Homo sapiens: one gene and its partners. The protein of the gene in region 3 purifies or fractionates together with the protein of the main gene of each other region. This does not show direct contact. Each region holds a gene or a part of one and is shown on either strand. Other genes may lie near its edges.

Region 1 (3,500 bases), on a different chromosome or scaffold from region 3:
TAAAAACTGGATAATGAGGCTGGGCACAGTGGCTCCTGCCAGTAATCCCAGCACTTTGGGAGGCCGAGATGGGTGGATCACCTGAGGTCAGGAGTTCAAGACCAGCCTGGCCAACATGGTGAAACCCTGTCTCTACTAAAAATACAAAAATTAGCAGGGCATGGTGGCCCATGGCTGTAATCCCAGCTACTTGGGAGACTGAGGCACGAGAATTGCTTGAACCCTGGAGACAGAGGTTGCAGTGAGCCGAGATTGCATCACTGCACTCCAACCTAGGCAACAGAGTGAGACTCTGTCTCAAAAAAAAAAAAAAAACAAAAAAAACCAAACCTGGATAATGAAATGACGCTGATTTGTAAAGCTGATTTTTTTTCACACAATAAATTTAAAATACCATTTTATTTATATCAGTACTGATCTACCTCACCATTGTAATGGCTACGGGATATGACATTGTATGGATAACATAATTTATTTAATGAATTCCCTTATGATAGAAATTTAGACCATTTTTAACGTTTTGCTATTAACAAACAATAGTGTGATGAACATCTGCATACACCATGGACTACTAGTCCTATTATTTCCTTAGGATAAATTCCCTGAAGCAAATCTATCCATTTTTGGTTATATTAAAAAATAGATCCTGGAAATAGGCTTGGGCTCTAAACTTCCCTTTTGCTGAGGCCCCAACTTGGGAAAGAGGCACTTTCTTATTGGGCCCAAGGATTGTCTACCGGGTTTTCTGTGGATTCTCTGTTGACAAAACGGCCACACCCAGCATCTCCCTGTGGCTCTCTGTCCCTGACCTCAGGGGTTCTATTTTCCTCAATATGCCATCTACTAAAGCCTGTAACAAATGCTCCTTTGATGCCTCCTGAATATTCCATTCTGTTTGGGAGACAATTGGCCTGATTAAGTTAATCTGGGGGGTGTTAGCACTTACTTTTTGACCTGCCTCGTAGGAAATCTGCAATGTGACTCCTTTTACTGCCATCTGCTGCTTATTTTAAGCCGGTTTCTCAATCTGGGCACTCTCTCAGCCTCTCGTGAAGCTCCTGAAAGGTTCTCATAACCTCCAGGAGCCCAACTTTACTTTTCACTAACACCAGAATCAGCAGTGACTCTTAACTTTCTCTTTGTCACACAAGTCTCTATAATTACAAAGTGTCTTCTGTGAGCATCTAAGACTGTACCTAAGACAAATATTCAAAATCAAACATATATCTGGTGACCTCAGAGGCACAACCCTGAATTCCGACAAGATGGCCCCCTACCCCAGCGCACACTCCTCTGGGTGAGCTGAGTTACCTAACTGGCGAACTGGGAGAACTGGGCATATGAAACTCAGCGTCTTCTGCCTGCCCCTCTGGAGCGCCAGCTCCCTGCCTCTAACACACATTCCGCTCTGTCCCTCAGCCCTCGCTGGCCCTCCCTGAATTTTGCCGGGCAGGCTGCTGAGCGAGAGAGCCTATGGTCATCCAGCACTGCCCATGGCTGGGGAGGCATGTCTGCCCAATGCTGGGGTTCAGTATTGAGCCCGCCGTTGCTGTACTCTGATGCCACATCTTTCGACTCTTACTTTATCTCTCAGGTGGCTCAGAACTCAGCGGGGAGGAGAACGGTATTAATTCCTCAGCCCTCTCAGCCCCACATTAGCATAGTACAGACTGTACCTCCTCATGGAGGCTCCCCTTACCCAATGACACAATGCTGTTATAGTTCTCCAGCATCACCTCCTTGTAGAGGTCCCTCTGTATGGGGACCAGACGACTCCACTCTTCATCTGTGAAAACCACGGCAACGTCTTCGAATGTCACTGATTCCTGAAAATACAATCACATTCTCCCTTACTCTTAATCCTTCTCTTTACTTGGACCAGACCAAAAATGTCAAAGATGACAGCCCTGGAGGACGCATGGTGGGAGGAAAGAAAAACAGTTCTGACTGAGTAGAACTTTAAAGCATTTGGGAAAAGTGGCCTCATCACCCAAGACATGAAGTTCTTGGTCAGAATCTCACACCACTATACTTACAGCTGAGCTTCTGAATATCAGACTCTTTTTTCAGACTTCTAAAAACAGCACAAAAAAATTCCTGTGTACCCTTCACCTGGCTTCCTCAACTGTCAACATTTTCCACATTTACTTTATTTTTCTGTCTCTCTCTAGATACACATTCTCCTATCTTTTTGTTAGGCCTCTTGACTAACTTGTCAACATCATGTGTCTTTAATCCTAAATATTTCAGTGTGTATTTTGTAAAAACAAGGATGTACTGTTGTTATAATCACAGTATAACTATAAAAAATGGAGAAAATAGCATTGATCTTATACTATTATCTAATCTACAATCTTACTCAAATTTCACCAATTGTCTTTTTTTTTTTACAAATCCTTAGAATAATGGTGTTGATTAGATCATCTGTAGGATCCCTCTCATTTCATTCTAATGCTCTGTGATTCTGTAAGATTGCATCTCTTTACCTTCAGTTCTAAAACCTCAGATGAGTCTCCAGTGTGTCTGCAAAAGTTCTAGGCCAGGATGCAGAATTTAAGACTCTGCCCTCGGGCAGGAATGGAGCAAGCCACACAGTCTCTAGCACAGGAGACTCTCTTCAGGGCTCTTAGCACCCCACAGAGGTGCTCTACAGTGTGTATCACACGCCCCAGCCTAGCCCCACACTCCCTGGAACACTGGAGCCTCCTCTCAGTCCACACATGAATGTACCAAAGGGACTGTCAGGACCAGAACCAGCCCACTATTCCCCAAACCTTCCAATCAGACCCTACCATTGGCTTCTAGGCAAAATCACTCACAGTGAAGGCTCCAGGAGTTGTTAAGCCTGGTGACAAGCTAATGGGCACATGCTCACAGCAAGAAAAGGTCACTAAAGGATACCTCAAGTCAAATAGGAAAGAAATACTCCCTGTGGAGTCCTTCATCTGCCTGGCTGGGTCTGCTCAAAGAGGCTCCAGGATAGAGAAAGAAAAGTGGTTACATTCTGGAGATGAATGGAGTATTTCGGGAACACAAAAGTCCACCTCACCTGGCATCTGGTGGTCGGAGACACAGCAGCCATTCTCTCCTGTGTGCTCTCCTTGTGGACAAGGGCAGAGTCCTAATGAGGCAGAAGTGGGGGGTGAGAAAGAAGGTAGGAGAAAGACCAGTCCTGTCGCATAGTCTTTTGACCCATGAAGCACATACCAGGGGGATATGTCATCCTCAATACCTTACAAAAGGGGGTCTAAGTAAAGCAAAGCCAGGAACAATCCCAGACCACCCCAGAATTAGAGCCAACAACCATGGAACTGCGAATTAGACCACAATGTGGTGGTGGTTTTTACCACGATGCTAGAGGCAGAGTTCTGTTCCTGAGAGTCAAGAACTGTGTAAGATTCACACAGTACGTAAAAATTCACATTCAATATTGCCCTGAATGATTACTGGGCAAAAGCCATTAGCAATTTTATAAATGACTACATGGACAAGACATATCA
Region 2 (3,500 bases), on a different chromosome or scaffold from region 3:
ATTACAGGCGTGAGCCACCGCACCCGGCCAATAAACTATTGTAAAATGAATGAATGACATGTACCATAATGTGGTTGAAGGCTACAACCCAAAGGATCCAAGTGGCATTGTCAGAGCAGTAGACATGGAAGATAAAGTTACGTGGTTACAAGATGGGGTAATCCAATGATAAGAATGTATACAGTTGAGACTGGGCATGGGGGCTCATGCCTGTCAATCCCAACACTGGAAGGCCAAGGTGGGTGGATCACCTGAAGTCAGGAGTTCAAGACCACCCTGACCAACATGGAGAAACTCTGTCTCTACTAAAAATACAAAATTAGCTGGGCGTGGTGGCACATGCCTGTAATCCCAGCTACTCGGGAGGCTGAGGCAGGAGAATCGCTTGAACCCCGGGAGGCGGAGGTTGCGGTGAGCTGAGATTAAGCCATTGCACTCCAGCCTGGGTGACAGAGTGAGACTCCATCTCAAAAAAAAAAAAAAAAAAGAAGAATGTATACAGTTGTGTACAGTGAACTGCACTTCAAGAGAAGCTGAAGACTACTGAGGACAGCTATGGGGGAAAAGTCCTTACTCATCTCTTCCTCTCCCTGTAGCACGGTACCCAAGAATAAAGGAAGGGAACCAGGCTCTGTTTAGTTGGAAGAGCTGGGGTGATTCTGCATTTCTCTTCACACCAGTAATATAAGCATGATTATCAACACCCACCAGATTAAAAAAGATCTTGTTGGCCAGGCATGGGAGGTCTCGCCTATAATCCTAGCACTTTTGGGAGGTTGAGGCAGGCAGATCACCTGAGATCAGGAGTTCGAGACCAGCCTGGGCAACACGGCGAAACCCCATCTCTACTAAAAATATGAAAATTAACCAGGCTTGGTGGTAACGCGCCTGTAATCCCAGCTACTTGGTATCACTTGAACCTGGGAGGCAGAGGTTGCAGTAAGTCAACCACTGCACTACAATCAGGACAACAGAGCAAGACCCTGTCTCAAAAAAAAAAAAAGATGTTGTTCACTGACAGTGATCCTTGGGTTTGGGCTTATGTAAGGGAAGAATTATTTTGAGCTGTACACACCAATAATGCAAGTTAAATGGAGCTGCTTATATATTACACCTTTTTTAAGACTGGGTCTCACTCTGTTGCACAGGCTAGAGGTGCGGTGGTGCAATCATGGTTCACTGCAGCCTCAACCTACCGGGCTCAGGCAATCCTCCCACCTCAGCCTCCCAGTATCATCTCACTGCAACCTCTGCCTCCTGGGTTCAAGCAATTCTCCTGCCTCAGCCTCCTAAGTAGCTGGGATTACAGGTACCCACCACCACGCCTAATTTTTGTATTTTTAGTAGAGGTGGCGTTTCACCACCTTGGCCAGGCTGGTCTCGAACTCCTGACCTCAGGTGATCCACCCGCCTCAGCCTCCCCAAGTACTGGGATTACAGGCGTGAGCCACCGCGCCCGGCCTACCCTCTATTTGGATGATACAACTTCACAGATCTCTAACTTGCATTTAGTCTAAATGTACAACTGCCTAAGGGACAGATTCACCTGCTTACTCTCAGAAGTAACCTGTGGAAATATACAAATTTAGGACTCAAAACACAAGTTCCTGTTCCAGCCCTGCCACTAACAACCTGTGTGATCCTGGGCATGTCTAGTTTTCAGTTTCATCACTAAAATGGGTCAAGTGCTAACTGGGTGTGGTGGCTCATGCATGTAATCCCAGCACTTTGGGAGGCCGAGGGGGGTGGATCGCACACCGTGCGATCAAGTGATCTATCCACCTCAGACTCTCAAAGTGCTGGGATTACAGGCATGAGCCACCGTGCCCGGTCCACTTGTCAGGAATCTTAAACTCTGGAGATCTAGTCTCCGGGGAGGGTACTAAAAATATCTGTAAGTGGCAACTTTACATGCCTTGTCCCTTTAGAGAAGCAATTATTTTCCAAGGTCTAATTCTGCATACTGCAACAACAGTTAATGCTGTATTACATTACTTACATGAATATGGATAACGTGATGTTTTTGCACAGACACAAAGCTACAGCTGGACCACTGTTACATCTATCATTCATATGTATTTATGTGAATTTACAACATATGTTTAAAATTCCAGAAATAAACAATTCGTAAGTCTTAAGATTGCAACGCAGTTCTTAGTACCATGATGAAATCTTGTGCTATCCTGCCTGGGACATGAATCATTCCCTTTTCCAGAGTATCCACACTGTATATGCTACCATGCCCATTAGTTATTTAGTAGCCTTCTCACTGATCAACGTAGTGTATACAGGGCTCAGTGCTATCAGCAGTTTCAGGCATCCACTGGGGGCCTTACAATATATGCCCCTCAGATAATGGGGACTACTTCATTGCTGTAAATAGCTCATGATAATATTCTATCACTCATCAGTTCAAGTATGTAGAAAATGTTGAAAATCTTTGTATAATTAGAAAGCATTTTTTTTTTTTTGAGACAGATTCTTGCTCTGTCGCCCAGGCTGGTGAGCAGTGGCGTCATTCCTGCTCACTGCAACCTCCACCTCCCAGGTTCAAGTGATTCTCCCACCTCAGCCTCCCAAGAGTTTAGGATTCCTGAGAAGTGGGCCGGGTGCAATGGCTCACGCCTGTAATCCCACCACTTTGGGAGGCCAAGGCGGATGGATCATTTGCAGCCAAGAGTTTGAGACCAGCCTGACCGATATAGTGGAACCCTGACTCTACTGAAAATTCAAAAAAATTGGCCAGGCGTGGTGGTGCATGACTGCAGTCCCAGCTACTCGGGAGGCTGAAGCAGGAGAATCACTTGAACTTGGGAGATGGAGGCTGCAGTGAGCTGAGATCGCGCCATTGCACTCCAGCCTGGGTGACAGAGCGAGACTCTGTATCAAAAAAAAAAAAAAAAAATGACAGTGTAGACTAGGGTTTCTCAACCTCAGCACTACTGACATATTGACATTGGAGCTGCACAACTGTTGTGGGGGGCTATCCTACGCACTACAGGCTATTGAGCAGCATCCCTGGCCTCTACCCACTAGATACCAGTAACACTCCCCACAACAGGTTCTAACACCCAAAAAACGTCTCCAGTCATTGCTAAATGCTCCAGGGGCAGGAAGAGGCAATATTACCATAGGTTAAGAACCACTGAGTAGAGTCAGCCTTGGTGTTTATCCTTACCATTCAAAGAGTTCTGAATACAAAGTAACCAACCAGTCACAGAAACACTTTGCTGAGTAGATTCATGTATGACTCAGGGTAAAGTTATGACCTGAGTTTTCCAGTCTCCTTATAAAATATCATATTCTCCAAAGGGCAAGAGCAACACACCCAAAACAGAGGCATACCATTTTCATGCCTTGTTCTTGCTGGCAGTCTTTAAGGTTTCTAACTGACAAAGCCAGAGAAAACATCATCACAGGCAAGAGTAAGTATACTAAGACCTTAGCCAACTCTAGAACTGCTGGGTGTGGTTCCTTCTGGTGGTGGAGGGGTGGGTGCT
Region 3 (3,500 bases):
AAAATCTGTCCAGTGGGGGCATGAAAAGAAATTAAAAATAAAGAATAGGAAGGTTGCTCACTGAATTGTAAACTTTATATAAATGGGTGAATTTTATGGCATGTGAATTATATCTCAACAAAGCTTTTTGTTTTTTAGCTAAACATCAACATACAGTGAAAGTTAAAAAAAAAATCACTTAAGGCAAGGCACAGTGGCTCTGTAATCCCAGCACTTTCAGAGACTGAGGCAGGAGGATAGCTTGAGCCCAGGAGTTCGTGACCAGCCTGGACAACATAGCAAGACCCCGTCTCAATTAAAAAAATACTTAAAAAATTATAGGGGTTAAGAACCATGGCCGAGCACGGTGGCTCACGCCTGTAATCCCAGCACTTTTGGGAGGCCGAGGCGGGCAGATGATGAGGTCAAGAGATCGAGACAATCCTGGCCTACATGGTGAAATCCCATCTCTACTAAAAATACAAAAATTAGCTGGGCATGATGGCACACACCTGTAGTCCCACCTACTCGGGAGGCTGAGGCAGGAGAATCGCTTGAACCCGGGAGGCGGAGGTTGCAGTGAGCTGAGATTGCGCCACTGCATTCCAGCCTGGTGACAGAGCGAGATTCCATCTCAAAAAAAAAAACAAAACAAAAAACAAAGAACTGTTCAACTAGATGACATGTAAGGTCCTGCCTACAATATTATGAAAAACAGCTTGTGCAGCAAGAACACTGAGTGCACAAATCCCCACTGGAGGCTCAGGTCCCTTTGCTGGGACATTTATTCAAGGGTAAGCTAAGTTTCCAAGTTCAGCCCTGGCTCAGACCTACCTGCCCGGACCTCCTCATGCTCCAAGACCACTCGGTTATAGATGAAGCGGATGTACTTTGAGGGATTGGTGGTCTTGGGCCCCTCCTGGCCCAGGAGATGTAGAATACGGGTGGCCAGCACTGTGAACTCGCAGTCCTCGATGAACTCGCACAGATGTGACAGCCCTGTCTCCTTGCTCTCTGAGTTCTCTTCAATGATGCTGATGATGCAGTCCACGATAGCGCGCTTATACTCAAAGCCACCCTGCAGAGAGAAGCTGAGCTAAGCAAGGAGCCTGCTCTCTCCAGAAAAGAGTTGAAGACCTGAGCTGGACCAAGGACAGTTGTCCAAACACAGAACTTGGAGACAGGGCACTTGGTTCTCTGGGCCTCTATCACTCTTTCCTGTCAAACAAAAGGCTGGTCAGGTGCAGTGGCTCACACCTATAATCCCAGCACTTTGAGAGGCTGAGGTGGGTGGACCACTTGAGCTCAGGAATTCGAAATCAGCCTGGGCATCATGGAGAGACCCCATCACTACAAAAAATAGAAAAATTAGTTGGGCATGGTGGTGCATGCCTATAATTCCAGCTGCTTGGGGGTCTGAGGTGAGACGATTGCTTGATCCCAGGAGGTTGAGGCTGCAGTGAGCCGTGATCACACCACCACACTCCAGCCTGGGTGACAGATGGAGGCCGGGCGCAGTGGCTCACGTCTGTAATCCCAGCACTTTGGGAGGCCAAGGTGGGTGGATCACCTGAGGTCAAGAGTTTGAGACCAGCCTGACCAACATGGTAAAACCCTGTCTCTACTAAATATAAAAAATTAGCCGGGCGTGGTGGGGGGCACCTGTAGTCCTAGGTACTCGGGAGGCTGAGGCAGGAGAATCACTTGAACCCAGGAGGTGGAGGTTGCAGTGAGCCAAGACCTCACCACTGCACTCCAGCCTGGGCAGCAGAACGAGACTCCTACTCAACAGAAAAAAAAAAAAACTGCTATCATGCATACAGTGTCTCCAAAGTGCTAGGCCTGGCCAGGCATGATGGCTCACACCTGTAATCCCAGAACTTGGGTGGCTAAGGTGGGAAGATCACTTATAGCCAGGAGTTTGAGACCAGCCTGGGCAACCCAGCAAGACCCCATCTCTACTTAAAAAAAACAAACACAATCACCAAAGTGCTGGGCCCATTAGCTGACAACTCACTAAACATTAGTGCCCTTCTACAACAACATTCTTGGGAAACGCAAAGACACTCAAGGCAATGGCTCCTCTACTGCCTAGTCCATGGGCCACTCTGGGGCTGGGTGAAAGGGGTACCATGTATCTGAGGAACAAATCTACTCCATGAACATCTGCTATTGCTCCTAAGAATTAACCCATTTTGTTGAGACGTCCAAGAAAGGTGGCATAAGTGAATCAGTAATTCACGTCGGGAACAGAAATAGAACCAATGTCGTATTATTAGCACCGGTTTCACAAGAAACCACTCCTAGAGCTCCTGGAATGGTCTAGAATATTTCTGCACTAGAGTCCACCAGAAAAGAACATGCATTTTCCCATCTTCTGCACAAGCATCACCTCAGGACATCCAGTTTTTAAAGTCAGGCTGGTGAGTCATAGTTATTACTGTAATTACTAGCAATTGGTACGTGTTTACATGTCCACAAGGAGTTTAAAGGGTTGCAGGCACCATGAAAACCAGTTGGTTAACAGGCTAACATAAGCACACGCACAAAGCTGAGCATGGAGCCAGTGGTCAGGTCACTCCCTGCACCAGGAGACCTGGCATCCCCCGAATGCCCCTGACTCTTACCTCTTCCCGCAGCATGGTGAACAGGAAGTTCATAAGGACGGCGTGTTTGCGAGGATATTTCTGACACAGGGCACTGATGGCCTGGACAACCACCACCTAAATGAAATAGACGTGCATGAGCAGCAGGCCCTGCCACCAAGATGGGGTGACTCAGTTCCCTGAGTGCCCACTGAGTCCTTCCTTAGGTAAGGCCAGGCCTTGGGCATGACACAAGGGCAAGGAGACCAGAGGAACTCAACTCCACGCTTGAAGCTTGAAGGGCACAATCCCTGAGCCCACCCAAGGCAGTGCCAACAGCCCCAGTGTCAGACTCTCAGACTCTGGGTTCCCCAAACTCTGCTCTTCTACTCAGGCTTCTTAAGTCTCCGAGTCCCCTCCACCCAACCTGTCCTGCTTCTCTCCCTACCACTGGCTCCCACTGATGGTTCCCACCCATCATCTCCTCTGGCTCCTTTTTGGTTAAGCCTGTCTCTGGGGTATTCTGTCCTTGGCCGCTTCTCTTCTCACAGTCTCTTCAGCAATCTTATCCCCTCCCATGGCTTTAACCGCCTCTTATATGCCACTGACTCCCAATATTTATCTCCTGTCTGAGCTTAAGACCTGCCTTTTCCAACTGCCTGTCAGACAACTCCACCTGGCGCCCACAGCACTTCAAACTCCACATGTCTGCAACCACAAACATCTCCATCTCCTTCCCCCTCCCTCATCCAATACCCCATCTTTTCCTCCCCTGCAAACTAGTCAAGAGCACCACTGTCAGCTCAAAGTAGAAAATGGCATCATCTCTGTTGACATCCACCCCTCAACCCTCACACCAACCCTGCCAACAGGCATTATCCCTCAAAAAGCTCTTGCACTGTCCCACCTCTCCTACTCCCGCCGGTTCAGGCACCA
Region 4 (3,500 bases), on a different chromosome or scaffold from region 3:
GAGGTCAGGAGATTGAGACCATCCTGGCTAACACGGTGAAACCCCATCTCTACTAAAAATACAAAAAAAATTAGCCGGGCATGGTGGCACGCGCCTGTAGTCCCAGCTACTCAGGAGGGATTTTCCTACTAAGGCAGGAAAATCGCTTGAACCCAGGAGGTGGAGGTTGCGGTGAGCTGTGATCGTGCCATTGCACTCCAGCCTGGGCAACAAAAGTGAAACTCCATCTCAAAAAAAAAAAAAAGAAAAGAAAAGAAAAAAAAGAAAGAAGCCAGTTCCTTGGTGTAGTTAATTTACTTTGAGAGGTATTTGCCAGTTGGGATATGTCCTAAAAAGTGACTGACATTTTATTCAGGGCCTGGTATATCTTGAGCTCAGTGCTAGCTAGTATTTTTACTTTATCCAGTGTAACCTTCATGACTGTCCTGTGAGGTGAGAATCATTTTCCCTATTATACCTATGAAGAAACAGATTCAGAGAAATTAAGTTATTTGCTTAAGGTCACACAGCAAGTAAGAGGAAGGACTGGAATTCAAACCCAGGTCTCTCTGCTCTGTGATATTGAATTGCCTCTGGGACTGTGACACATGAAGAAGAACTGAAAAGACCAAGGCTAAGAGCCTGGGGGAACATGATACCTCATTCAAATACTTGAAGATTGTCATGGGGAAAGGAAACTGGATGTTCTCTGTGATTCTAGAAGGCATCTCAGGATTAAATGACATAATTTCCAAGAAGGTAGACTTTGGTTTGATAGGAGATAATGTAGCTTTCTAAAAACAAAATGGGCTGCCTTGTGAGGGAGTGAGTTACCCATCATTGCAGATATTCAAGCAGAGAGTTTGCCACATCTTTTTTTTTTCTTTGAGACAGAGTCTTACTTCGTCATCCAGGCTGGAGTGCAGTGGCATGATCTCAGCTCACTGCAACCTCTGCCTCCCAGGTTCAAGTGATTCCCATGCCTCACTTCATCTTCCAGGCTGGAGTGCAGTGGCATGATCTCGGCTCACTGCAACCTCTGCCTCCCAGGTTCAAGTGATTCTCATGCCTCAGCCTCCCAAGTAGCTGGAATTATAGGCATGTACCACCACGCCCATCTAATTTTTGTATTTTTGTAGAGATGGGGTTTCACCATGTTGACCAGACTGGTCTTGAACTCCTGACCTCAGGTGATCCGCCCGCCTCAGCCTCCCAAAGTGCTGGGATTACAGGTGTGAGACACCGCGCCCAGCCCCGGCTAATTTTTTTGTATTTTTATTAGAGACAGGGTTTTGCCATGTTGCCCAGGCTGGTCTTGAACTCCTGAGTTCCACCTGCCTCGGTCTCCCAAAGTGCTAGGATTACAGGCATGAGCCACCGCTCCTGGCTTTTTTTTTTTTTTTTTTTTTATGAGACAGGGTAGATGGGAAGACAGGTGTGTGCCATCACGCCTGGCTAATTTTTTAATTTTTTCATAGAGATGGGGTTTCACTATGTTGCTCAGGCTGGTCTCAAACTCCTGGGCTCAAGCAGTCTGCCTACCTCAGCCTCCCAAAGTCCTGGGAATACAGGTGTGAGCCACCATGCCCAGCCTCCCTGTCTGTTTGATCTGTAAAACCTAACATGGCTTGGCACGGTGGCTCACACCTGTAATCCCAGCACTTTGGGAGGCCTAGGTGGGTGGATTGCTTGAGCCCAGGAGTTTGAGACCAGCCTGAGCAACATAGTGAAACCCAGTCTCTACAAAAAGAAAATTTAAAAATTAGCCAGGTGTGGTAGCATGTGCCTGTATTCCCATCTACCCAGGAATCTGAGGCGGGGGCATCACTTGAGTGCAGGAGGCAGAGGTTGCAGTGAGCCAAGACTGCGCTACTGAACTCCAGCATGGGCAACAGAGACCCTGTCTCAAAAAAAAAAAAAAAAAAAAAAAGCCAGTTGTGCAGTGGCTCATGCCTGTAATCCTAGCACTTTGGGAAGCTGATGTGGGCAGAGCTCAGGAGTTGGAGGCCAGCCTGGGCAACATGGCAAACCTGTCTCTACTAAAAATACAAAAAATTAGCCAGCCGTGGTGGTGCACACCTGTAATCCCAGCTACTTGGGAGGCTGAGTCATGAGAATTGCTTGAACCTGGGACGCAGAGGTTGCAGTGAGCCAAGATCGTGTGCACTCCAGCCTGGGGGACAGAGTGAGACTCTGTCTCAAAAAAAAAAAAAAAACCAAAAAAACCCAAAAAAACTAACATGTATTGAATATTTAGTATATACCAGGCACTTGCTAGATACTTTTTCTTTCTTTTTTTAAGACAGAGTTTTGCTCTTATTGCCCAGGCTGGAGTGCACACGATCTCTGCTCACTGCAACCTCCGCCTCCTAGGTTCAAGCAATTCTCCTGCCTCAGCCTTCTGAGTAGCTGAGATTATAGGTGCGCGCCACCATGCCTGGATAATTTTTGTATTTTTTTAGTAGAGATGGGGTTTCACCATGTTGGCCAAGCTGGTCTCGAATTCCTGACCTCAGGTGATCCACTCACCTTGGCCCCCCAAAGTGCTGGGATTACAGGCATGAGCCACCAGGCCCAGCTCTACTTTTTCTATAATGTCTCTTATAATCTTCAGAGCTCCCCTGGAAGGAAGGTATTACCATTATCCCCACTTTACAAATGAGAAACTGAGACTCTAGACTAAAGTTAAGGAATATGCTGGAGGTTACACAACTAGTAGTGTAGGGCTGATATTTGAACCCATGTCTCCTCCTTAGCTCTGTGACCTAGGGCCAATCATGTATCCTCTCAGAGCTATAGTTTCACCTATAAAATGAGGCTTATTGTAGTACCTACTTTTTAGTGGGTTTTTGAGGACTAAATGATGAAATATATCCTTTTTACTAGACCTCACTGATTGCCCTCAAGAGCCAGGGCTTGGATGTAAAGGAATACCACTTAGTTGGCTTCTTCTGGGTAAATTCAGGCCTATGTGTAACTCTGAGAGTTCTAGGGCCCATTCTTTGAGCTATTAAGTAATAGCTGCTGACTCCTTGAAGGGCTTTGTGGCATTGAAGACTAATACCTTAAAAACTTTTAAGCCTGGGCTGGGCGCAGTGGCTCATGCCTGTAATCCCAGAACTTTGGGAGGCTGAGGTGGGCGGATCACAAGGTCAGGAGTTTGAGACCAGCCTGGCCAAGGTGGTGAAACCCTGTCTCTACTAAAAATACAAAAATTAGCCTGGCGTGGTGGCGGGTGTCTGTAGTCCCAGCTACTCAGGAGGCTGCGGCAGGAGAATCGCATGAACTCAGAAGGTGGAGGTTGCAGTGAGTTGAGATCGCAACACTGTACTCCAGCCTGGGTGACAGTGAGACTCCATCTCAAAAAAAAAAAACAAAAAAACTTTAAGCCTGAATAAGGGGAGGATGCAGTCAAAAGGCCAGAGTGTATAGGAGGCAGTGTCAGAGGCCCTGTGCAAAGAAAATTCTCAGCTACTACTGCAGAGCCAGATTTGAGGGTCACCGTTGGCATTTTTGTATTT

The links. Proteins that work in one complex are often made in the same cells at the same time.
Region 1: the proteins of COPG1 (region 3) and ZNF2 purify together in Homo sapiens (co-immunoprecipitation; one large-scale study listed by IntAct). This does not show direct contact.
Region 2: the proteins of COPG1 (region 3) and ATL3 purify together in Homo sapiens (affinity purification with mass spectrometry, with the first as the bait; one large-scale study listed by BioGRID). This does not show direct contact.
Region 4: the proteins of COPG1 (region 3) and WDTC1 purify together in Homo sapiens (co-immunoprecipitation; one large-scale study listed by IntAct). This does not show direct contact.

What each region holds. Positions count from the first base shown.
Region 1 is NC_000002.12:95,175,809-95,179,308, reverse strand, and holds part of ZNF2 (zinc finger protein 2), read right to left. Parts: intron 3,122-3,500; 5' UTR 3,083-3,121; coding exon 3,050-3,082; intron 1,827-3,049; coding exon 1,700-1,826; intron 1-1,699. UniProt on the Homo sapiens protein: May be involved in transcriptional regulation.
Region 2 is NC_000011.10:63,664,877-63,668,376, forward strand, and holds part of ATL3 (atlastin-3), read right to left. Parts: intron 1-3,500. UniProt on the Homo sapiens protein: Atlastin-3 (ATL3) is a membrane-anchored GTPase that mediates the GTP-dependent fusion of endoplasmic reticulum (ER) membranes, maintaining the continuous ER network. It facilitates the formation of three-way junctions where ER tubules intersect.
Region 3 is NC_000003.12:129,263,106-129,266,605, reverse strand, and holds part of COPG1 (coatomer subunit gamma-1), read right to left. Parts: intron 2,703-3,500; coding exon 2,607-2,702; intron 1,058-2,606; coding exon 814-1,057; intron 1-813. UniProt on the Homo sapiens protein: The coatomer is a cytosolic protein complex that binds to dilysine motifs and reversibly associates with Golgi non-clathrin-coated vesicles, which further mediate biosynthetic protein transport from the ER, via the Golgi up to the trans Golgi network.
Region 4 is NC_000001.11:27,237,632-27,241,131, forward strand, and holds part of WDTC1 (WD and tetratricopeptide repeats protein 1), read left to right. Parts: intron 1-3,500. UniProt on the Homo sapiens protein: May function as a substrate receptor for CUL4-DDB1 E3 ubiquitin-protein ligase complex.